Linked DNA regions of Homo sapiens: all the other regions are reported to be linked to region 3. Evidence: microRNA targets listed by miRTarBase, many of them from high-throughput screens and not tested one by one. Region 3 holds a microRNA gene; each other region holds the end of a gene's coding sequence.

Evidence for each region. The annotated mature microRNA hsa-miR-4727-5p reads AUCUGCCAGCUUCCACAGUGG and lies in region 3 at 2,108-2,128, shown strand. An mRNA with a match to its seed (bases 2 to 7 or 8) in the 3' UTR can be bound and repressed. Matches are read on the target gene's strand: a 7mer-m8 pairs with bases 2 to 8, a 7mer-A1 pairs with bases 2 to 7 and ends in A, and an 8mer does both.
Region 1: miRTarBase lists PLCL1 as a target of hsa-miR-4727-5p. Seed matches in the 3' UTR shown: 7mer-m8 at 1,488-1,494.
Region 2: the mRNA of DCP2 is a reported target of hsa-miR-4727-5p. Seed matches in the 3' UTR shown: 7mer-m8 at 1,714-1,720.
Region 4: the mRNA of TBL3 is a reported target of hsa-miR-4727-5p. Seed matches in the 3' UTR shown: 7mer-m8 at 1,526-1,532.
Region 5: the mRNA of AGMO is a reported target of hsa-miR-4727-5p. Seed matches in the 3' UTR shown: 7mer-A1 at 1,588-1,594 and 7mer-m8 at 1,768-1,774.

What each region holds. Positions count from the first base shown.
Region 1 is chr2:198,145,746-198,149,921 of GRCh38, forward strand. It overlaps PLCL1 (phospholipase C like 1 (inactive)), which reads left to right. Exons shown (of 6, transcript NM_006226.4): 6 at 1,035-4,118. The coding sequence ends at 1,217. Among named protein-coding and RNA genes, the nearest start is that of LINC01923, 230 kb to the right of the region's middle.
Region 2 is chr5:113,012,982-113,017,000 of GRCh38, reverse strand. It overlaps DCP2 (decapping mRNA 2), which reads right to left. Exons shown (of 11, transcript NM_152624.6): 11 at 1-3,680. The coding sequence ends at 3,517. Among named protein-coding and RNA genes, the nearest start is that of DCP2, 38 kb to the right of the region's middle.
Region 3 is chr17:38,823,732-38,827,907 of GRCh38, forward strand. It overlaps MIR4727 (microRNA 4727), which reads left to right and starts at 2,107; the gene lies at 2,107-2,161. It overlaps CWC25 (CWC25 spliceosome associated protein), which reads right to left and starts at 1,590. Exons shown (of 10, transcript NM_017748.5): 1 at 1,435-1,590. The coding sequence starts at 1,452. RefSeq lists an enhancer at 298-929.
Region 4 is chr16:1,977,347-1,981,307 of GRCh38, forward strand. TBL3 (transducin beta like 3) reads left to right here. Exons shown (of 22, transcript NM_006453.3): 16 at 10-80; 17 at 168-324; 18 at 396-454; 19 at 612-715; 20 at 803-874; 21 at 967-1,125; 22 at 1,206-3,961. The coding sequence ends at 1,339. It overlaps NOXO1 (NADPH oxidase organizer 1), which reads right to left. Exons shown (of 8, transcript NM_172167.3): 1 at 3,768-3,961; 2 at 3,593-3,673; 3 at 3,310-3,385; 4 at 3,021-3,198; 5 at 2,651-2,835; 6 at 2,444-2,557; 7 at 2,079-2,196; 8 at 1,571-2,003. The coding sequence starts at 3,833. The coding sequence ends at 1,706. Among named protein-coding and RNA genes, the nearest start is that of NOXO1, 2.1 kb to the right of the region's middle. RefSeq lists enhancers at 666-1,245, 1,246-1,825, 1,826-2,405, 2,406-2,983, 2,984-3,563 and silencers at 1,970-2,089, 2,882-3,176.
Region 5 is chr7:15,197,994-15,202,169 of GRCh38, reverse strand. AGMO (alkylglycerol monooxygenase) reads left to right here. Exons shown (of 13, transcript NM_001004320.2): 13 at 811-1,853. The coding sequence ends at 885. Among named protein-coding and RNA genes, the nearest start is that of DGKB, 300 kb to the right of the region's middle.

The sequences.
Region 1 (4,176 bases), not on the chromosome of region 3:
CAAGTTTCTTCATACACCCTAAGGAAAAAGCATTTACTGGCCTTTCATAAAATAGGTAAATTATCCTTTCTCTGAGCCTCTGCTTTGTAGAATAATGCTCCAGCAATCGTCATAACCCCATATCCACCCATATTGTCCTTTCAAGGTCACACTTTCAGGCACTGCCATGAGAATGGAGAGGAGAGGGAAGAAGCTACTTCTTCCTCTGTCTATGGGCCATAGACACCTGTCCCTGCTTCCCCACACTCAGTCATTCAGCCCTTGGGCCAGTATCAGTATACGCACTTTATCTTCATAACAGTGAACTAAAATAAGAAATAAAAATAGCAGGAAAAGATCTCTGTTGGGCACTGATGTAAATGACAGCTAATGTGTTCCTGCAATCCTCATTTCCTTTTTGTTTTGCCTCTGGAGACTCTTTTTCTCCATCTGCCAGGTGGGAACATCATCTTCAGGATGATGGAAAAGGCAGAAGTAATGTGGGTGACTGATAATTTAACAACAGGCAGATTGCAAGGATGACCCAGTATATTAAAAACCAGCTCACCAAGCATAAGGGTATGTGACTTACTTTACAGAAGACACTTTGCTTTGTAAGCTCTTGTACAGAGGGGGAGATTTTATTTTCACTTCTTTAAGGAAGAGCTTCTTTCCTTGTTTTCTCCCAAGACTAGGAATGCTGGATCTGGGCGGGGTAGGTATTGCAGCAGTGTGCAGAGTCTCAGACCATGGTGATGGAAGAGTTGATGTCCTCAGCACATAAAGAGGAGGATTCCTCACAATAGGAATCTCAACGGACTGCCAGCAATTGCATAGCCAGCTGGTCAGGCTCAGGTTGAGGTACTTGGCTTAACAAGCAAAGTCACTTAATAATGTTAGAAAAGAACCTTGGGTTAAACCCTGGAAAAGTGAGCTTGCAGGTCTGGGTCTGTTTCCTTATTCAGCAATGGGCAGTAAGAACATAGAGTGATGTCACTCAGCACATGCCTGGCCCATAACTGTCTTCTTTGATGCCTGTTTTTTTCTGTTTGTAGGGCCAAGGAGATCTGTTGAAGAATGCCAAGAATGAAGCTATAGAAAACATGAAGCAGATCCAGCTGGCATGCCTGTCCTGTGGACTGAGTAAAGCCCCCAGCAGCAGTGCTGAGGCCAAGAGCAAGCGCAGCCTGGAAGCCATAGAGGAGAAGGAAAGTAGTGAGGAGAATGGGAAGCTGTGACTCTGGGCATTATCGACACGTTCACCCATCTTATCAAGGACTCTGGTTTCTCATTCTTGTTTTCTTTCTTTAAATGTTTTATAAGTTCACAAAATGGTGCCCTATATGGGGTATTGGACATAGATATTTTCACAATGTCAGTATTTCAGTGTAGTTAATTTATCTAAATTAAAGCCTTTAGTATCAGTGTTTTAAATTCTGAGACATGTGTCAACACCCCTGTGTGGATGCCTGTGGAAGAGTGTGTGTGTGTGTGTGTGTGTGTGTGTGTGGCAGAGAGAGAGAAAGAGAGAGAGAGAGAGAAATTCTGTTAAAATCTATTCTGTGTTGCATTATTCATTTAGTGAGTTATTCCTTGATCATTTTGGGACAATTGTTTTAATCTGAAATTCTAAAGAGCACTTACTGTAACCTGTTGCTGTGTTTAATTTGACTTCTCTGCCTTTGACATTTAATTTAGTGATCTTAGCATAGCTTATTATTGAAGGAAGCCAAATTTATCAAAGCATAGATGTTTTGGTAGATTAAATATAGATTAGAAAAATTCCTAAGAATCAGAGTAGAAATAAAAGTGAATGAAAGATTAAACAGATGATGAGAATTTCTAAAAAGATTAGCAAGGTCATTTCTTCAGTCAGAAAACTTTAAAAAATATTTATTAAATAAAATCAATTTTTAGGAAGTTTTCTGTAGTCATTTACTAAACATATGATTTCACTAGAAAAGCTGATCATAAGTGAATTTATACCTACCTGTGTGGTACTCTGAAACACACTGAAAGCTCTGTTGCAATTAGGATTTTGATGTGACAATAATATTGTTGTATAATTTCGAGATTTGTAGGAAGGTCTCATTCTTCCAAGCTGAGAGTCTAGCACTCATTTTCTATAACAGATATGGCAGCTTAGAGGTGTTGGCTTTGTTTGGATGTAATTTAGGGTACTAAATTTAAATTTAAAGATATTGTTCAAACAATATCATATCATCACATTGAGCTGATATAAATTCTGTGGGTCCGATAATATCTTTGTGATAATTTAAGAGCTAACCAGTTACCACACATCTATGATATAACCCTAACACACACAGAAAAGCATACATGCAAAAAGAAATGACTAATTAGGGTACATTTATAATTGCATCTAGGTAATTTTTACCCTAATGTCTTCATAAAGTACTTGAGTGTAATGTTTGTTACCTCCAACAGAACTAAATGTTCTATGGTTATGAAAGAATATATTTATTTAAAGCATTGCTTTTATTTTGAAAAGCTTCTTAATTAATTTGATTAACAAATATGCTAATTTGGGGAAACCTAGAGAAGATAATTGTTGAAATTTTGCAAATATAAACATCTCCTATAGCTTCTGTGTTATTTCTGACTTCTTAACACTATTATGTTTATGTTGCACATTACTGAAAGAGTAAAGATATGAAAAAAACACTTATTGTTTTCTTTTATTGTGAATTGAAAAAGCAAAGCTAATGAAAATGGGTTACTACATCAAAAATATCTTAAAGAGTTTGCTATTTCCATGGACCAGATATGATGAAATTATTCCCTGGGTTTAAAACTGGGCACTCGAGGAGGAGGTACCTGAAGTCATTTGAAGGCAAGTTTCCAATGATGCTACAATGGCCTGAAAAAATTTCTTTACCCTCTGTTATATTTAACTTGCTGGTAGGAGGAATAGTGGAATGCAGGTGTTAAGCCCTTTGTGGTGAAAAAGAGGTTCTATAGACAGAAACAAAACCCACCTTACATCAGCTGATTGGTTGATTTTACTAGTGTACCTCTTCATCTACTTGAATTCTATTTGGTAAATCCATGTCTTTACTGGATATACAGTTAGGTGGGAAGAGGAGATAAAGGATGACAAACTCTCAAACAATATTTATACATTTATTTACTCCAGGGTCAAATCCAATCCTTGGAAGTAGCTTCTCTAGTTTATTTTATTTGTCCCAGAGCTCTACTCACACTTAGGACCCACCCAAAAATTCTCAAAAACGTAATATGGATTCTGCCTCATCTGATGCTATTTCTGGCAGTGGGTTGTCAGCCATACTCTGCTTCATTCCACTGGGTGTCCTTGCTAGATGGGGAGTGAGATGTGGAGCAGGGAGGAGCTTTGGATTCTGGGAGTGGAGGTGGCAAGGGAAAAGTCTCCTAGTCTCCTGTGATGTTCCTGCCTCCAGATAGAATAGCAAAAACAAACAATTTTTTTTTGTGTATTATGCCTCCATGACATTGTTACATTCTATGAGGAGCATCTGTCTCCTTTCTAGACTTGAACTGTGGTAGAAAAAGCCCCCTTCTCTCTTCTATCTACTTAGATTTGGTGATGCTAGGAATGTAGTGTTTTAGATATTAATTCTATTTTTATTTATTCATTTTTACATCACCAATAGGATCTGAGGTGGAGATGGCGGGTATTATCACTGGCATTTTACAGGTGAGAAAGCCCAAAGCCACTGAGGTAATTAATGGAATAATTGATTTTGAACTTGGGTCTGTCTGATTTCATGTGCAAGATTATATACTTAGTGATTTTGATTTTAAGTTTATTCTTAACATTTTAAACCAGACTATTAACTCTTACCTTTATAACCACAGATACAAAGAACTGTATCATTTATTTTCTGAATATAAAATATTAATGGTCAATATAAAAATACAAAAATAGAGAACTATATACAACAGAAAAGCAAAATTACCCACTAATAACATTTTGATTTATATCCCTTTAGACACTGTTTAGAGTTTATACATATATGTAAATATGCTTGTATTTTAACAAAATTGAGATATTATATAAACTGTTTGTAGCAGGGTGTTTAAAATTTTAACAATATGTTATGGATATCTTTCTGTGTCAATAAATGTGTATTTACATTAGAGTTCCAAGCATTTGAACTGAATCTAGTCCAAAAATGATGTGTTTTATTTGGCCATTGA
Region 2 (4,019 bases), not on the chromosome of region 3:
GCGTGGTGGCGCATGCCTGTAATCCCAGCTACTTGGGAGGCTGAGGCAGGAGAATCACTTGAACCCGGGAGGCGTAGGTTGCGGTGAGCCGAAATTGCACCATTGCACTCCAGCCTGGGCAACAGGAGTGAAACTCCATCTCAAAAAAAAAAAAAAAAAAGCCAAGAGGGTATTGTGGTAAGAAAACTAACTTGGCAAAATGTCTAATTTTTATAATTAACTTTGCTCTCCTTACCATTTAACTGTTGGAGATGAAAAAAGAAAGGATGAGAAGTCCATGAGAGAATAGGTAGTGAAATGTTTTTAATGCACACATGCACTCAGACCTTAACTTTTCTATAGGATACAATATGGTGACTTTTATAGAAGAATCTAATTCCTATAGTAGGAGGCTGTTATTTACTCAGATTTGAATTCCTTTTATTTGACATTACATACAAATTACTAAAGCCTTAATAAGGAAAAGTACCAATTCAATCTTACAGCATAAAATTACTTTCATTATATGTCTTCATTAGCTATACTTACTAATTGATATTTAATAGAAAAATAACGATATTCAAAGCTCAGAACAGCAAGTAGTAACCACAATTCCTTTGACAGCACTGGGAGACTTTCCTTTATACATGAATACAAAAATCCAACTTCATTTTCCAACATCTTTAATCAAATTTCACTCACACTATATGAGTTCTATTAGGTTCTCAGGCCTCTCCAAATGCTCATGTCTCAGGAGGGTATCACTATTTGAAATCCTAAACCATTCATTTGCTACTTCTTAACAAAAATTTTTGAAAAGCATGTAAACCACACCCTTATCTTTTGGATTACAATGGTTAGGTACAAAAACAATTCATTTAGCATCTTATAAATCATTAAAGTTATACATAAAAGCACCTACAAATTTTTTTAAAAATAAAAGATTCACAGTGCACTGCACCTTGGAACATATAAGGTTGGAACGTAACATTTAAAAAGTGAATTCCAAGACCTGTATCTCTCTCAAAGACATAAAACATAATGAAGCAAAACCAACTACTCTTCTCATCTAGCATCTTAAAATGCAGCACTCAGTAGAAGTAAATGATTGCATATTCAGCATACTCCTTTATCACTTGATTTCCTCAAACCATACTAAAATTTCTCAAAGGAGAAATCCAGTTCGCTAAGCATGGCCTTTCTCAAGGTAACCTGAACACTGAGAAACTATTACCCAGGTTTGAGAGAATAAGTATAGTAGATGTACCTAAAACAAGTACATCCAACTTAAATATTTTCTGCATAGTTAAGTCACATCACACACATAAACTTTAACTCACATCTTTTAACATTTTTTTAACCTCAAACTTTGAGGAGAGCTAAAAGCCTGAAGTTATCATAATCACACCCCAACAGTACCCTTATATTTTGTTCCACAGTGCATTAAATAAAGCAGCGCAACAGCAGTAACATTTAACCATAGTTAAACTACTGTAATCACAAAGATAATTTGTTGGTTCTTGAAAAGGCTCAACACCATTAGAGGCCATACTTCTGGTAACTATAATCTCTTTTGCTTCAGTATTGAGAGCTGAAAAATCCAACTCTACAGGCACCAGGAAGACTGGCCAAAGTATGCACTTAAAAAGAAAAAAAAAAACACATACCAAAAAAATAAAAAACAGTAAAAGTTAAATGGTTTCCAGAAGACAATAAATGAGTGAAAATTATTCATCTGCCAGGCAAACTACATTTTCACTCCTTTAACAATTTACCAGAAGTCTGGAATGCTGGGACCAACTATAAATATGGCTCGAAGAGACCCAAGCAAAGCAGCCGTATTTCTGAAAAGAACAGTAAAAGCTTCCAAACACAATCATATAATGCATTAAAAAGCAAAAGTCACAGGATTCAAAAATTTGTCACATTAAAAGATGCAGGATTCTGAATATCATAATTCTATACACACTGCTTTAATTGTGAATTCTCCTGCTTAGCACCAAAAGGGTGACACTTTCATTAATAAATAGAATTTCTCCTTTAAAATCAAGCCATTTAAAAGCTAAAGCAAAGTACTACCAAGTGAATTCCTTAAATAGCCCTTCTTTTAAAAGTCCCATGAGGTTCAGTGGAACCCAATTAAATAGGCTACCTACACAGAATAAAGATTTCTACAATAACATTTATAAGCAGAGAAGTATTTTGTGGATACCACTGTAAAAAAGGATTTTTAAAACCCACATGATAGTTACACACACACACATATACTCAAACACCCCCGACTCCCAAGAAATTCCTTCAATGAGGTCAGATGCAGCCAAAACACTAAAGCCCCCTTAACGCCCTGGTGATTGTCCTCAGTTATAGCTGAAATCCTCCTTAAAATGGGCACTGCCATCCTTATTTGAATTTAAAAATCCTGAAGCAAAATACATTCCTAGGAGTGAGTTATGTATGTTACTGTTATGTAACACATATACATAACGTGTAACCTAGTGAAATGCTTTATTTGGACTTGGGTAAACTGCATACCCCTTCCCTTCTCGCTCCATCATCCAGGGGCTTAGCAGGTCAATAAAAGCATGTCAGTCTCTGCTACTATTGCGAATTGGAACCTAATGTAACATCAGTTTCCAAAGATCAATACTGGAGATGCAACGTAAAACCTAGTAATATCAGTTTTCCATACATATTTACACAACTGGAATACAGAAGAAATTTCCACAAGAACAAAAGTCTACGAGACTAAAGGGTTGGAGGCAGGACAGTAAAGACATGACCCAAAGTAGCTGCTGGGTCCCAGCCTCCATGCTGTCTGCTACATTTCCTCCAGCAGTCTCACAGGTTTACTGACTGCATGTAACCACAGCTCAAAATCACAGCATCAGCTCCCATCCACTCAAGCCCCTCCAGGCTACAGACTTTGTCCTTTTGAAGCGCTGAGTTCATTTTGGACATGCACATTATATTCCAGAAGCTGCTCAATAAATCCTTTCACTAAAACTCCAGAGGAAGATTAGAGAGCCTCAGTGGTTAGAAGCAGAGAGAAGTACAAAATGCCACCAAAATAGATCACCTGTAATGCTGACGAATGTGACATCTCAGCTCTTGTGTTCATTTAATAATTGGGCATTACTTTAAGTTTCTTTGAAAAACTCCAATATACTATTATTGCAATCACTGTAACAGGTAGATGGAGCATTCCCATTAACTTGGCTACTTGACAGTAACTCAATACATTATTTTCTTAACCAGAATACAAAATAAAACCCACAGTCACACAGAATAAATGCCCTCAAAGAAAGCAACTTAAACTTGTACTGAACACTGAAAAGGTAAATCTGTATAAAAGGTTATAACTGCATTTACAGTGCAAACTCGTGTTTCTTTCTACTCTCTTATAAACAGAAAATGTCTTCAGAAACATTGCCTCCCTGCATTTCTTTAAAACACCTGAGAAAGGTAAGGCTTGAGGAGACACCCACTCAAATTCAACAGGTCTCTGATCCTGGGACATTTACAATACATGTGCTGCTATCAAAGGTCCAAGATTTTCATTATAGCATTATGGTCAAACTTGAAACTCAAAAAGGCTCTGGATGAAAAGGGGAACTTGCAATGTCCATTACATGCCACGGGCTGTCCCTCAGCATGTTCTAGCAACTGGTCTTCACTGGAGCTAGGCAAGTCATATACAGCATCTGTTTAAAGAAAAAACAAAATAAATAAGCTCAGTAACCTTAGTAAGAAATCAAATACTGCCCTTTGCCTTTTGTTACAAAACAATTAGTTTTGAGTATATATTTATCTTCCCAGACTCTAACCCTAAACAGAACCACCAAAATATGTATTTTCCTTTCCATAAACTGGTGGTCAACTGCATTTTCAATCTATTATTATTTCCACATATTCAAAATCTTAATCTCAGCCATTAAGACCCTTGACATTCCTTTGCTTTCAAAATGAGCGTAACTTTACCTCCTGTATGTGCTTTACCTATTTTATGTGCATTCTGTTACAGAAAAATAAAGCTGGGGTTT
Region 3 (4,176 bases):
CCTCTAACCCTTCCCATCTTGTCCTCCCTGCCTCAAGCATAGATTATTTTGCTCCCCAGGGAGAAAATCTTCTGGAGTCATTTTTGGCTGTCACAACTGGTGGAGACGGGTGTTAGTGGATAGCTCCAGTCTAGTGGCTAGAGGCCAGTGATGCTGCTAAACATTCTACAATGCACAGGACAGCCCAACTACCACCACTACCACACACCCCCAAAGAATTATCTAGGCCAAACTGTCAAGAGCGCTAATGTTGAGAAACCCTGGATTAGAGCTTTCCTGTCCTTAAATGCAGTTATGTGAAGAATACACTAAATTGGATGAAACTAGATGGAGTCCTGGCACTCACTGTGATTGAGAACACATGACAAACTAATAGGTTTACTGGGCAGGCGGCTAAGCTGATCTACTTGCTGGTTCAATTAGCTCCACTTTCCGGAGGCTAGCATTTTCCCAACCTTGCCCCATGCTCTTGTGGGTACATTTACCCTATTTGGGGCCTTAGCGCTTTACAAATGAACGTTTCAGTTTAAGAGACATTGCCACATAACTTATATTAAGTGGTATGAATTCAAAAGCAAGCTCTGCCACTACAGATCAGAATCCAGCACTGAAGGAGGTGTGGAAGTCAGAAAGATGGACAGGAAGATCCCTTCAGGCTTAAAAAGGACCCCAGGGCCGGGCGCTGTGGCTAACCCTTGTAATCCTAGCACTCTGGGAGGCCGAGGCGGGCGGATCACTTGAGGTCGGCAGATCGAGACCAGCCTGACCAACATGGAGAAACCCTGTCTCTACTAAAAATACAAAATTAGCCGGGTGTGGTGGCGCATGCCTGTAATCCCAGCTACTCGGGAGGCTGAGGCAGGAGAATCGCTTGAACCCAGGAGGGAAAGGTTGCGGTCAGCCGAGATCGCGCCATGGCACTCCAGCCTGGGCAACAAGAAACTCCGTCTCAAAAAAATAAAAAATAAAAAACGACCCCAGGGCATGGCTTAGGGTAGGGAGAATGGGGCACAAACCACCCCTACTTCAGTCCAGGACATGACTCTGAACTCTCACCCAAGGAAGAGAGGTGTGTGGCAAGACAAGATATACAAAACAAAGTGTGGTGACACGTCCTCCATATCTACCTCCTTTCCTAGCCATGGCTCCATCCGCCCCCTCCCCGGTCTTCCCAGAATTTACAGCCGGTAGAGCCGCAGTCAACAAACACGCAAACACCACCTGTCACTGTTCGCGACACACCTCGGACTTTCCCAAATCTCAGTCCCACCCCTCCATTGCCCTAAGGATCCATCCCCTCTTCAGGGCAACGGCCTCCTCCCGGCGAAAGCAAAGCTGCGTTGCCATGGTTATCCACTCCTTCCTCTACCCCCACCCCCTGCCAATTTCCGTCCCGGCCTCAGTCCTCCCCCGCCCAGGCCTCCCTCCACTCACCAGGTCTCCGCCCCCCATGACGGTGGAGACGATTCCTCACTACGCGGATCTGGAAGATTTCGGGAGGATCAAGAGAAAACGTAGAGAAATAGTTCGGGGGCTACCTCGCGGGATCTAGTCCCAGGAGCCGTCAACTGCCAGTTTCACCACCGCTCTAGAGGTCACTTCCGGGAGGGCGTCATCTCACCGCGTCGGCGTCGCGGAACGATGACGTACAGGGCTCGGTCGCGCTTTGTGACGTTGGCGTTACTTGCAGATTTTGCAAAGGTCCGGGCTCCGCTGTCGAGGCCTTTGCTGTCGAGGTCTCATTTTGGCTGCTTCGGGTCGCCACGTTGCCTGATGTCCCAGACTCTCTGTTGAAACGCCACAACTCTGTTCAGTGATGGGTTGCCGTGGGCCTGTGCCCACGGCTGTGTTGCCATGGCAGCTCACCAGGGCATTCGGCTCAAAGCTCCACGTAGTCTCTGCTAGACCTAAGGTGGACCAGACTAGGCCTCCTCCCCTCACCCTGCACACACCCCCACGCTCCAGTTTTCCAAAACGGCTTTGCAAACTGGCGCTTTCCTCAGACCTTGACTCACAGCAAATCCCCTTATGCCAGGCCTATTTTACGAAGCTAAATAGAAACCATCAAATCGAAATTCCATCAGCTTCCGTTTGCCAAACTTTTAAAATCTGCCAGCTTCCACAGTGGCAGATTTTCCCATAGTGGGAAGCTGGCAGATTCCTTTCCCTTCAGTTACTATGTGTTTTTGGCATGTTTTTCTTTTTTCTTTTTCTTTTTCTTCTTCTCCCTTTGTTTTTGTTTTTTGAGAAGGAGTTTTGCTCTCCCAGGCTGCGGTCGAAGCTGACTGCAACCTCCGCCTCCCGGACAGCAATTCTCCTGCCTCAGCCTCCCAAGTCGCTGGGATTACAGGCGCCCGCCACCCGCCCGGCTAATTTTTGTATTTTTTGTAGAGACAGGGTTTCACCATGTTGCTCAGGCTTGTCTCGAATTTCGACCTCAAGTGATCTCCCCGCCTCAGCCTCCCAAAGTGTTGGGATTACAGACATAAGCCACCGCGCCTGGCTATTTTTATTTTTGTAGCAACAGGGTTTTGCCATCTTACCCAGGCTTGTCTCAAACTCCTGGACTCAAGCAATCCTCCTACCTCGGCCTCCTAAAGTGCTGGGATTACAGGTGTGAGCCACTGCGCCCGACCTGTTTTGTAATTTTCAGAATAGAAGTTTTGCACATCTTTTGTTAAATTTATTCTAAATGTTGTATTTTTTGTGATGCTATTTTATTTATTTATTTATTTATTTATTTATTTATTTATTTATTTATTTATTTATTTATTTCGAGACGGAATCTCACTCTGTTGCCCAGGCTGGAGTACAGTGGCGCAATACCAGCTCACTGCAACCTCCGCCTCCTGGGTTCAAGCGATTCTCCTGCCTCAGCCTCCCGAGTAGCTGGGATTACAGGCATACGCCACCACGACCTACTGATTTTTGTGTTTGTAGTAAAGATGGGATTTCACCGTGTTGGCCAGGCTGGTCTGGAACCCCTGACCTCAGGTGATCCGCCTACCTTGGCCTCCCAAAATGCAAGGATTACAGGCACCCGGCCTGTGATGCTATTTTAAATAAAATTTAAAAATTTTAATTTTCCAATTGTTTGCTACTAATAGATAAGAACGTGCTTTTGTATAGTAACCTTCTATTTTACAGGCTTGCTAAATTCACTTATTAGTTCTTATGGCTTTTTAAAAATACTTATTGCCCGGGCGCGGTGGCTCACTCCTGTAATCCCAGCACTTTGGGAGGCCGAGGCAGGTGGGTGGATCACCTGATGTTGGGAGTTTGAGACCAGCCTGGCCAACATGGAAAAACCCCATCCTACTAAAAATACAAAAATTAGCCGGGCGTGGTGGCGGGTGCCTGTAATCCCAGCTACTTGGGAGGCTGACACAAGAGAATCACTTGACCCTAGGAGGTGGAGGTTGCTGTGAGCCAAGATGGCACCACTGCACTATAGCCTGGGCGACAAGAGTGAGACTTTGTCTCAAAAAAAACAGAAAGAAAGAAAGAAACAGGCTGGGCTCGGTGGCTCACGCGTGTAATCCCAGCACTTTTGGGAGGCTGAGGCGGGCAGATCATCTGAGGTTGGGAGTTTGAGACCAGCCTGACCAACATAGAGAAACCCCGTCTCTACTAAAAATACAAAATTAGCCGGGCGTGGTGGCACATGCCTGTAATCCCAGCTACTCTGGAGGCTGAGGCAGGAGAATCACTTGAACCCAGGAGGCAGAGGTTGTGGTGAGCCAAGATAGCGCCATTGCACTCCAGCCTGGGCAACAAGAGCAAAACTCTGTCTCAGAAAAAAAAAAAAAGAAAAGAAACAAACAAAATACCTATTAAATATTTACTTAAATGTATTTGAATAAAGTTTACTTAAAAGAAAAGCAGGCTCACTGCTGTAGTCCCAGCACTTTGGGAGGCCGAGGCAGGTGGATCACTTGAGCCCAGGAGTTGGAGACCAGCCTGGGTAACGTGGTAGAACCCTGTTTCTCAAAAAATACAAAAATTAGCAGGACATAGTGGCATGTGCCTGTAGTCCCAGCTACTCAGGAGGCTGAGGTGAGAGACTGCCTGAGCCCAGGAGGCAGAGGTTGCAGTGATCCAAGATCATACCACTGCACTCCAGCCTGGGCAACAGAGCGAGACCCTGTTTCAAAAAATAAAAGAGGGCCGGGCGCA
Region 4 (3,961 bases), not on the chromosome of region 3:
ACCTTGCAGACATTTGAGGGGCACGATGCTTCTGTGCTGAAGGTGGCCTTTGTGAGCCGTGGCACGCAGCTGCTGTCCAGGTGAGTGGGCTGGGGTGGGGCAGCGATGGAGTGGGGGGTGGCGGGGGGACCTGCCTGACGCTGAGCCTCTCCCCACCCCAAACCCAGCGGTTCGGATGGCCTCGTGAAGCTCTGGACCATCAAGAACAACGAGTGTGTGCGGACGCTGGATGCCCACGAGGACAAGGTCTGGGGGCTGCACTGCAGCCGGCTGGACGACCACGCCCTCACTGGGGCCAGTGACTCCCGAGTCATCCTCTGGAAGGTTGTGGGCCCCAAGGGCAGGGAAGAGTCGGGGTGGAGTGGAGGCCCCATCTGACCCTAGTCTAACCCCAGGATGTGACCGAGGCGGAGCAGGCAGAGGAGCAGGCCAGGCAAGAGGAGCAGGTGGTCAGGTAAGGCCAGGGCAGTGGCGCCCCTCCCCGCATCAGCCCTGCTCTGTGCTGTAGGGAAAACGAGGCTGAGTGCCAGGCTCCCTGCCTGCTGACTCCGATGGCTCTGCCTGCAGCCCCAGCCAGCGGCCCTCAGTGGCCTCTCCTCCCCTCCCCACAGGCAGCAAGAGCTGGACAACCTGCTGCATGAGAAGCGGTACCTGCGGGCGCTGGGCCTGGCCATCTCCCTGGATCGGCCCCACACCGTGCTGACTGTCATCCAGGGTCAGTGCCCACCCCGGGGGGCGAGGGGCTGGGTCTTCGGACCACTGGGCTCTGCTTTCCCCAGCTCAGCCTTCCCTTCTCCCACAGCCATCCGGAGGGACCCTGAGGCCTGCGAGAAGCTGGAAGCCACCATGCTCCGACTGCGGCGCGACCAGAAAGGTTGGCGGCCAGTCAGGGTGGGTGGCCCGGTGGGCAAGGGCCAGTCATGGCAGATTGGCTGGGCAAGACGATGAGGGTCCTGTTGCCCACAGAGGCCCTGCTGCGCTTCTGCGTCACGTGGAACACCAACTCGCGGCACTGCCACGAGGCCCAGGCCGTGCTGGGTGTGCTCTTGAGGCGAGAGGCCCCCGAGGAGCTGCTGGCCTACGAAGGCGTGCGGGCAGCGCTTGAGGCCCTGCTGCCCTACACTGGTATGTGGGCACAGCCTGGGGTTGGGGGATCCTGGTGGGCGTGTGGACCACCCCCCTGACCTCCCTCTGTCCAACCCCAGAGCGGCACTTTCAGCGGCTCAGCAGGACCCTCCAGGCCGCCGCTTTCTTGGACTTCCTGTGGCACAACATGAAGCTCCCTGTGCCGGCCGCCGCCCCCACCCCCTGGGAAACCCATAAAGGCGCACTGCCCTAGCCGGTCCGGCCTCTCTCCAGTCCATCCTGAACCCCTGGAAAACCCATAAAGGCCGCTCTCCTGGCCGGCTCTGTCTCTCTGGACTGCAGTCCAGCCCCCCACCCTGGCCAACACCCTACCTAGCCAGCCAGAAGGGCACTGGAGCTGATGGTCTCGGCCCTGCCACGCCCATCCCGCACCCTGGCCTGGCAGAGATCCAGCCCGCGGCTCCGCACGCTTAGACGGTGGGGGTCATGCAGAACAAGCTTTACTCAGAGGAACAGCAAATGGCCCCCTCCCATCCCTGCTGGCCAGGGAGATCCGCCCTCCCCGCTCCTCCCCAGCCCTGGGATGGCGCGGTCCATCCCCTCATCGGGATCCTCGCGCTCACTGCTCCGTCGTGGGGTGCGGCACAGAGTCCACGCACCCTCGAGGGCGGCCCTGGCGCCGTGGGCGCCGCTCCAGGGCCCTGCGTGTGACGGTGCAGCAGCGGCTCTGGATGGCGCCCGGCGAAGGTCGGGTGGGCACGGTGGGGGGAGGGGCGGTGGCCTGGGAGGGTTCAGGGAAGCCCCGGGCCTCACCCGCCGGGTCGTCTCCTCCACGGAACCCCGTCCCGCTCAGGAGAGCGCCCAGCCCTTCCGGCCGCAGCAGCACCGCGGGGAGTAGGCCCGCCCGGTCGCCGTACCTGCGAGGGGCGGGGTGTGGTTAGGGCCCCGCCCGCCTCGGCTAGCCTGCCCTGCCCACGCCCGCTCCCGCGTACCTGCATAGCCACCAGCCGCGGTCTGACGTTTCCAACACGCGCACGCGCGCCCCCGCGGGCACGGACAGCTCATCTGCGCGGCTGCTCTCGTAGGCGCGGGAAGCACAGAACTGGGGACCTGGTGGGAGTGGGTGTTTGGAGTCACCGCGGGGCCACAGAGGACGAGGCCCGCCCGCACCCTTCTCCACATTCTCCTTGCTTGAGTCTGCTGACGGCGGGGCCGCTCTAAGACCGGTTCGGGGCTTCCTCTAGGTGCGGAGACCAAGCACGGGCTCCTGGCCCGCCCTGCCCGCGGTGCTTCTGGCCCAGTCTTGCCACACGGTCAAGCCGCAGTGGTGGCGTGAGGGGTGGGGTTAGGCGCATACCGCTGCTCCCTAGGGACGGGCCTCCCTCCCGGCCTTGGCCCGGGGCCGCCTCCTCCAGGTAGGGCGCTGGAAACCAGGCGGTCTGCCGGTCTTCGTTCTCCACCAGCCACCAGCCTGTGCGCAAGAAGCGGGCAGGGACTCAAATCTCGAGGCTCCCTCGGGTCCAGGAGCAGAGGAGCAAATCCCTGGGTTCTTGGGGGGCCCTACCTGAGGGGTGCCGCAGCAGCACGTCCAGGCTCTCCTGGGCCTGCGCCTGAAAAGGCCTATCCCGCGTGTCCTGGGTACAGAAGGGCTGCAGGCAGCGCAGGCTCTGAGCCTCCAGACTGTGGATGGAGAGGCGGCCCGCAGCGCGAGAAAGAGGCTGCTCCTCTGGGGTGGGCAGGATCACCCGGCTGGGAAGGGCAGCCCGTACGAGTGAGAGGTAGGCGGATGGGGAGGGTGAAACTGGGGGCGCCACCCCGGCAAGACCGCCAGCCTCCCACTCTCTGCCCCTATTCGCTGGCTGTTCCCCCCCACCCTGGACCTCTCCCAGCTCCAAACGCCGCTGCATGCTGGGAGTTTGGGGCGAGTCAGGCACCTGCCGGGTGGCAGCGCGGGCTCCAGGTCCAGGGGTTGCGGTGCGAAGAAGCCAGTGATCGTCGGGCTCCGTGCCACGCGCTCTGCAGTCGCCAGCAGCCTCCGAGAATAGGTTTCCAACAGCTGCAGGCGCGCCAGGCCGCGGCTCGTGCGCCCCACGCGTCCCAACAGTGGTGCATCTTAAGGCACCACAAAAACGTACTGTGATACGCCGCTTTGGGCTTCACTGGTCCCTGGCGCCCCCAGGCAAGCCACCGCCTTCCCCGCTCCCGTACCCAGGCTGGCCTGACCGAGAAGCTTTGGGAGAACGCGGTCAGATCTCCGCAGCAGGCCCGCCTCCACCGGGAAGGTCTCCTTGAGGGTCTTCTGAGGGCGGGAACCAGGGCATTGGTCTTCCAGAGCCCACTGTGCACCCTTGAGAGGGCGGGGTCCCTCACCCGGATGGCAGGGGCTGGGAGCTTCAGCAGGGACGAAGGGCCTCCAGTGGGAGTCACTGATGGGAGGCAGTCCAGTGGGAGGCAGCCGCGTGGGGAAGCCGCCACCGCGGCATCAGGGTGGCCCAGGGTCACTCACCTTGAGCTGCCTGAATTCGTCCCAACTCCTGCGCACGAAGGTGTCGCTGCCGTCTGACCAGCGCACAGAGAAGGCAAACGTCTGGGGGACAAAAAGTTGGGAGTGCCGTGGAGGTGCTGGTCCAGGCACCCCCTTCCTATCCCTTGGGGCCACTAAGGACCCAGCCAGGTCTTACTTGGAGCCTCTTGATCTGCACCAGGGCTGCCCCTTGCACTGAAACTGGGTATCGGGGGCCTGCCATGGCTGTGGCTTCCAGGCTGCAGATTCCTGAAATGGGCGAGGACCCTTCTGCCTCCCCGTGCTTGAGAGGGCTCTGGGGGACCCAGAAAACCCCCTGGGATAGAATCCTGGCAACACCTCAAGCCTGTG
Region 5 (4,176 bases), not on the chromosome of region 3:
AATATAGAGAAACTCCTGCACAGCTATCCCAATAACTCTGGTTGTTTTGGCATTGTTTGCTTTCATCATCATTCCAGTTACCCAACCACCTAAAATGGTGATCAGGAAAGCAATCCTATAGTTTTAATTGTCGGTGCCTAGGTAAGAGCATAGGGAAGTGTTTACTTTTGGGAAATCTGATGGTGCAAAGACCATGACCAGAGCCTGGATTGAACAAACTCAATGAAATTTTCAGGCTGCTTAATATGATTCAGTTAAGTCTTCAGTGTGAAAGAAATTTGCAGTTACATTTTTACACCTGATAAAATCAAAAGACTGAGGAGGTAAATCATCAGCAGTGTTTAGAATTTAATTCACGTTGGGCGAAATTCATAGTAAGCTAGATCATACTGACTTGGAGGGATTCTTTAACAGTGTTTTTACTTCTCCTATTCCAAAGGTTTCTTAACCTATATAAGCAATTAGATCATCTAGTATAATGCATACAGCATGCTGTATCTCCAAATGTCAGAAGAAATGTCTGAATATCTAACTTGTCTAGCCTCATTCCTTGAAATGACCCAGATTTGTGAATATAAGAAACAAGCCACAGAAATAAAACTTCTTAACTCCTGCTCCTGTCTTCACACACCATGTTTTAAGTTAAATTGGCTAAGTTCTATCAGTGAACAATTGCTAGATTTAATTTAATAACTTGACTCCCTAAAATGTCCATGTTCATTTTCCTCTAGGGAAATATTTTTAATTCAGTTGAGCAATAGTATTGATTCACTTCTAATTTTTTTTTCTCTTTGTGTTTTATTTCTTCAGATTGTTTTTTCCATTTGCATTGCTTTCTGGGGAGTTAGAAGCATGAAACAACTCACCTCTCACCCTTGGAAATAACCTGAATTTGTACATAATTCTCTTCTTTTAATGAGTTGTCCACACGCATATTATGACTGCATATTAAAATGTAATTATTTTATGTAATGCTTATATGAACTATTTCTTCAATGAAAAGTAAAATTACTTATTTACTATTGTTTGCCTTTCACATTTGTTATTTTCTATTAAAAATTAAAGTCAGTTTTGGTTACTTCCCCCCTTTACTACAATTAAAAAAAGATTTCAAATATAATGATGTTATATTAACTGATAGCCTTATATGACAAGTATAAAAAGAAGGGATGAAACTTAAAAACAGTAAAAACAAGAAGGAATATTGCCTTTACATCAATTTGAAAACAATGTTTCCTTTGATGTTTGCTAAAATTATGCATAGATACATGTTTGTAGTCATAAAAATGTATTACATTGGTTGTCTTCCTAAGGCCACAGTTACCTTTGCAATCCATATAACCTAAGAAGCTGCATTCCAGAAAAAGACATCACTGAGGCCAGGCGCGGTGGCTCACCCCTGTAATCCCAGCACTTTGTGGGGCTGAGGTGGGCGGATCATGAGGTCCAGAGATAGAGACCATCCTGGCCAACATGGTGAAGTCCTGTCTCTACTAAAAATATAAAAATTTAGCTGGACATGGTGGTGTGCGCCTGTAGTCCCAGCTACTCTGGAGGCTGAGGCAGGAGAATCGCTTGAACCTGGGAGGCAGAAGTTGGAGTGAGTGGAGATTGCACCACTGCACTCCAGCCTGGGCGACAGAGCGAGACTCCGTCTCAAAGAAAAAAGACATCACTGAAAGAAAAATGAACAGAATTTGTCAGAATTAGTTTTTTCAACAGGTTACTTTGTCATACATTTCTCTAATATGCTTGGTCAATTTGTTTTGGCAGACTGGGCAGCATGCAGCAATTCTGCATTATTTAAAGTTATCAGAACAATGTTAATTCTCTAAATAAAATTACCCAAGGTGTTGTGTGTACATTGTTCATTGGGATTGTAAAAATCCACCAAGTGTTTCGTTAGGAGGGAACTGACAGGGATAAGCAGGATGAAGTCCAAAGAATGAGAACTGGAAAAAGTTAAAAAAAAAATCTTTATTTTTCATTTATCCAATATTTCTTGAAATCAAGTTAAAATTTAATAATTTAATAATAAAATTTAATAATTTAAATAATCAAAGACACATGTACTAAAAAAAACTAATGCTGTTCTTCATTGAGCTTTGCCTATGTATCACTGGGTTAAGGAGCCTGACTTAGATAATCTCATATTAGCAATACATTATTTAATCTTTGAATGGACAAAAATATAGAGTATTAAGAGAATCAGACTGCAGGTGTCTATGTGAACTGAGGATACAGAATTGAAGCATATTTAGTTTTCAAACTGGAACAGCAGAGGAAGATTAAATTTTGCATGATGAAAAAGCAACACATTCTATCTCAAGTATCAGAAGTGGGTTTGGCTTTGCTTCATTCTTTTTATACTTCTTAATTTAACACATAGTTATAGACAATACGTAAGCCTATAACATATATTGAATCCTGCTTTTGTCCCTTAACAACAATTTTCACAGAATTTTGTATACATATACAGAATCATGTTACAGTAGGGAGCCCTCTGCTGGCTTGAAATTAGGAAATTTAAGGCATAAACATTCTCAAGACCCTGATTCTACATTCTAGAGACTTTTCAGTGGGTAAAACACATTCTTCAGTAATGGCAAAGAAAAGAGACTTTTTGCTAATCTTTACATAGTTGTTTAGTATGTCAGAAGAGCTTAATGATTCCCCAAGGAATGATACATAAATATGTGTATATGCTTTAATATATGTGAATTTATAGGATTAGCCTAAAAATGAGTTTAATAATAGAAATGTTAATAAATAATTCCCCCAAATGAGAAAAGATCCTTTTGTGGTGAAGTTCAGTTTTCTTTGAGTAAATTGAATTCTGTCTATTCTCTCTCTTCTCTCTTGGGTTTACCTCACTGTGATTGTGAATGGTTTTCTATTAGAAATACAGATATTTTCAAGATACAAATTTGTGCCAATGAAAGTGGGAGTGGTTACCAGACAGGTAATGTTCCAGACACCTCCTATACAAAAATTATAACAGTGAAAAAATTAAGACAATGAGAAATCTGACCTAACAGACTCCATCTTGCTTCTAACCTCCAAGGTGTCCTTGTTTATTCCTGGGCACAGGCTGAGCTAACTTTGGTAGGAACTTAGTTTATAGTTTGCCTTTGAAACAAAAATGATAACGGCACTTTCTTAAAACAAACCCCCTTCTTGCCTGGGGACAAGGCTGCCTTTGTGGGACTAACAAATTAGCCACAAGATTAGAAAATAGGCTTAGGAGTCATACAGCTAGAGGCTACAAGATTCGAACTCTCCCCAGTTGCTCCTAGGGATAACATCATTATTGTGAAACCTCAGATTGGTGTTGGAGATATTTTTCAGCTCCTGCACTCCATGGATCAGCTGGCACCACCCAGATGGATAAACTGACTCATCTGGTCTTGTGGCCCCCACCCAAGAACTGACTCAGCCAAGAATAGCTTCAAGGCTCTTTGATTTTTATCTCTGACCTGATCAGTGAGCACTCTCCATTCCCTGGCCCCCTACCCACCAAATTATCCTTAAAAAACCCAGTCTCCGAATTTTCAGGGAGACTGATTTGAGTAATAATAAAACTCCAGTCTCCTATTCAGCTGGCTCTGCATGAATTGAACTCTTTCTCTATTACAATTTCCCTGTCTTGATAAATCGGCTCTGTCCTGGCAGCAGGCAATGAACCCATTGGGCGATTACATTTCTAGGGCCTCTGTGCATTATTAACCAAGGCACTTTATTCTTCACTTTATTCTTTAACCCTGCTAATTTTCCAGTCCAGTTTTCTTTTGCAGAGCACTAATACATGATGACAGAACATACAGCTATTATTAATGTTGTAAATTGATCTTGAGTGATACCATGTAATGTATGCTTACTGGAAGGACTTTAACACACTCTCTCTCTGTCTCTGTCTCTCTCTCTCTCTCTCTCTCTCTCTCTCTCTCTCTCTCTCTCTCTCTCTCTCTCTCTCGGGAAAGCCCTAAAAATAGGACTCGTCAATTACTCACCACTTCTATCGGAGAGATGCAAACTGACTTTGCAAATCATATGAAGATATTTACTTTTCCTAATCTACCATAAGAAAAGATAGAGGAAAGGAGCATTTGTTTAATGAGTAGTCCTCTATTAGTATTATTTTATTTAGTCTCTACAATCCTGTTAGGAGCTGTTAAC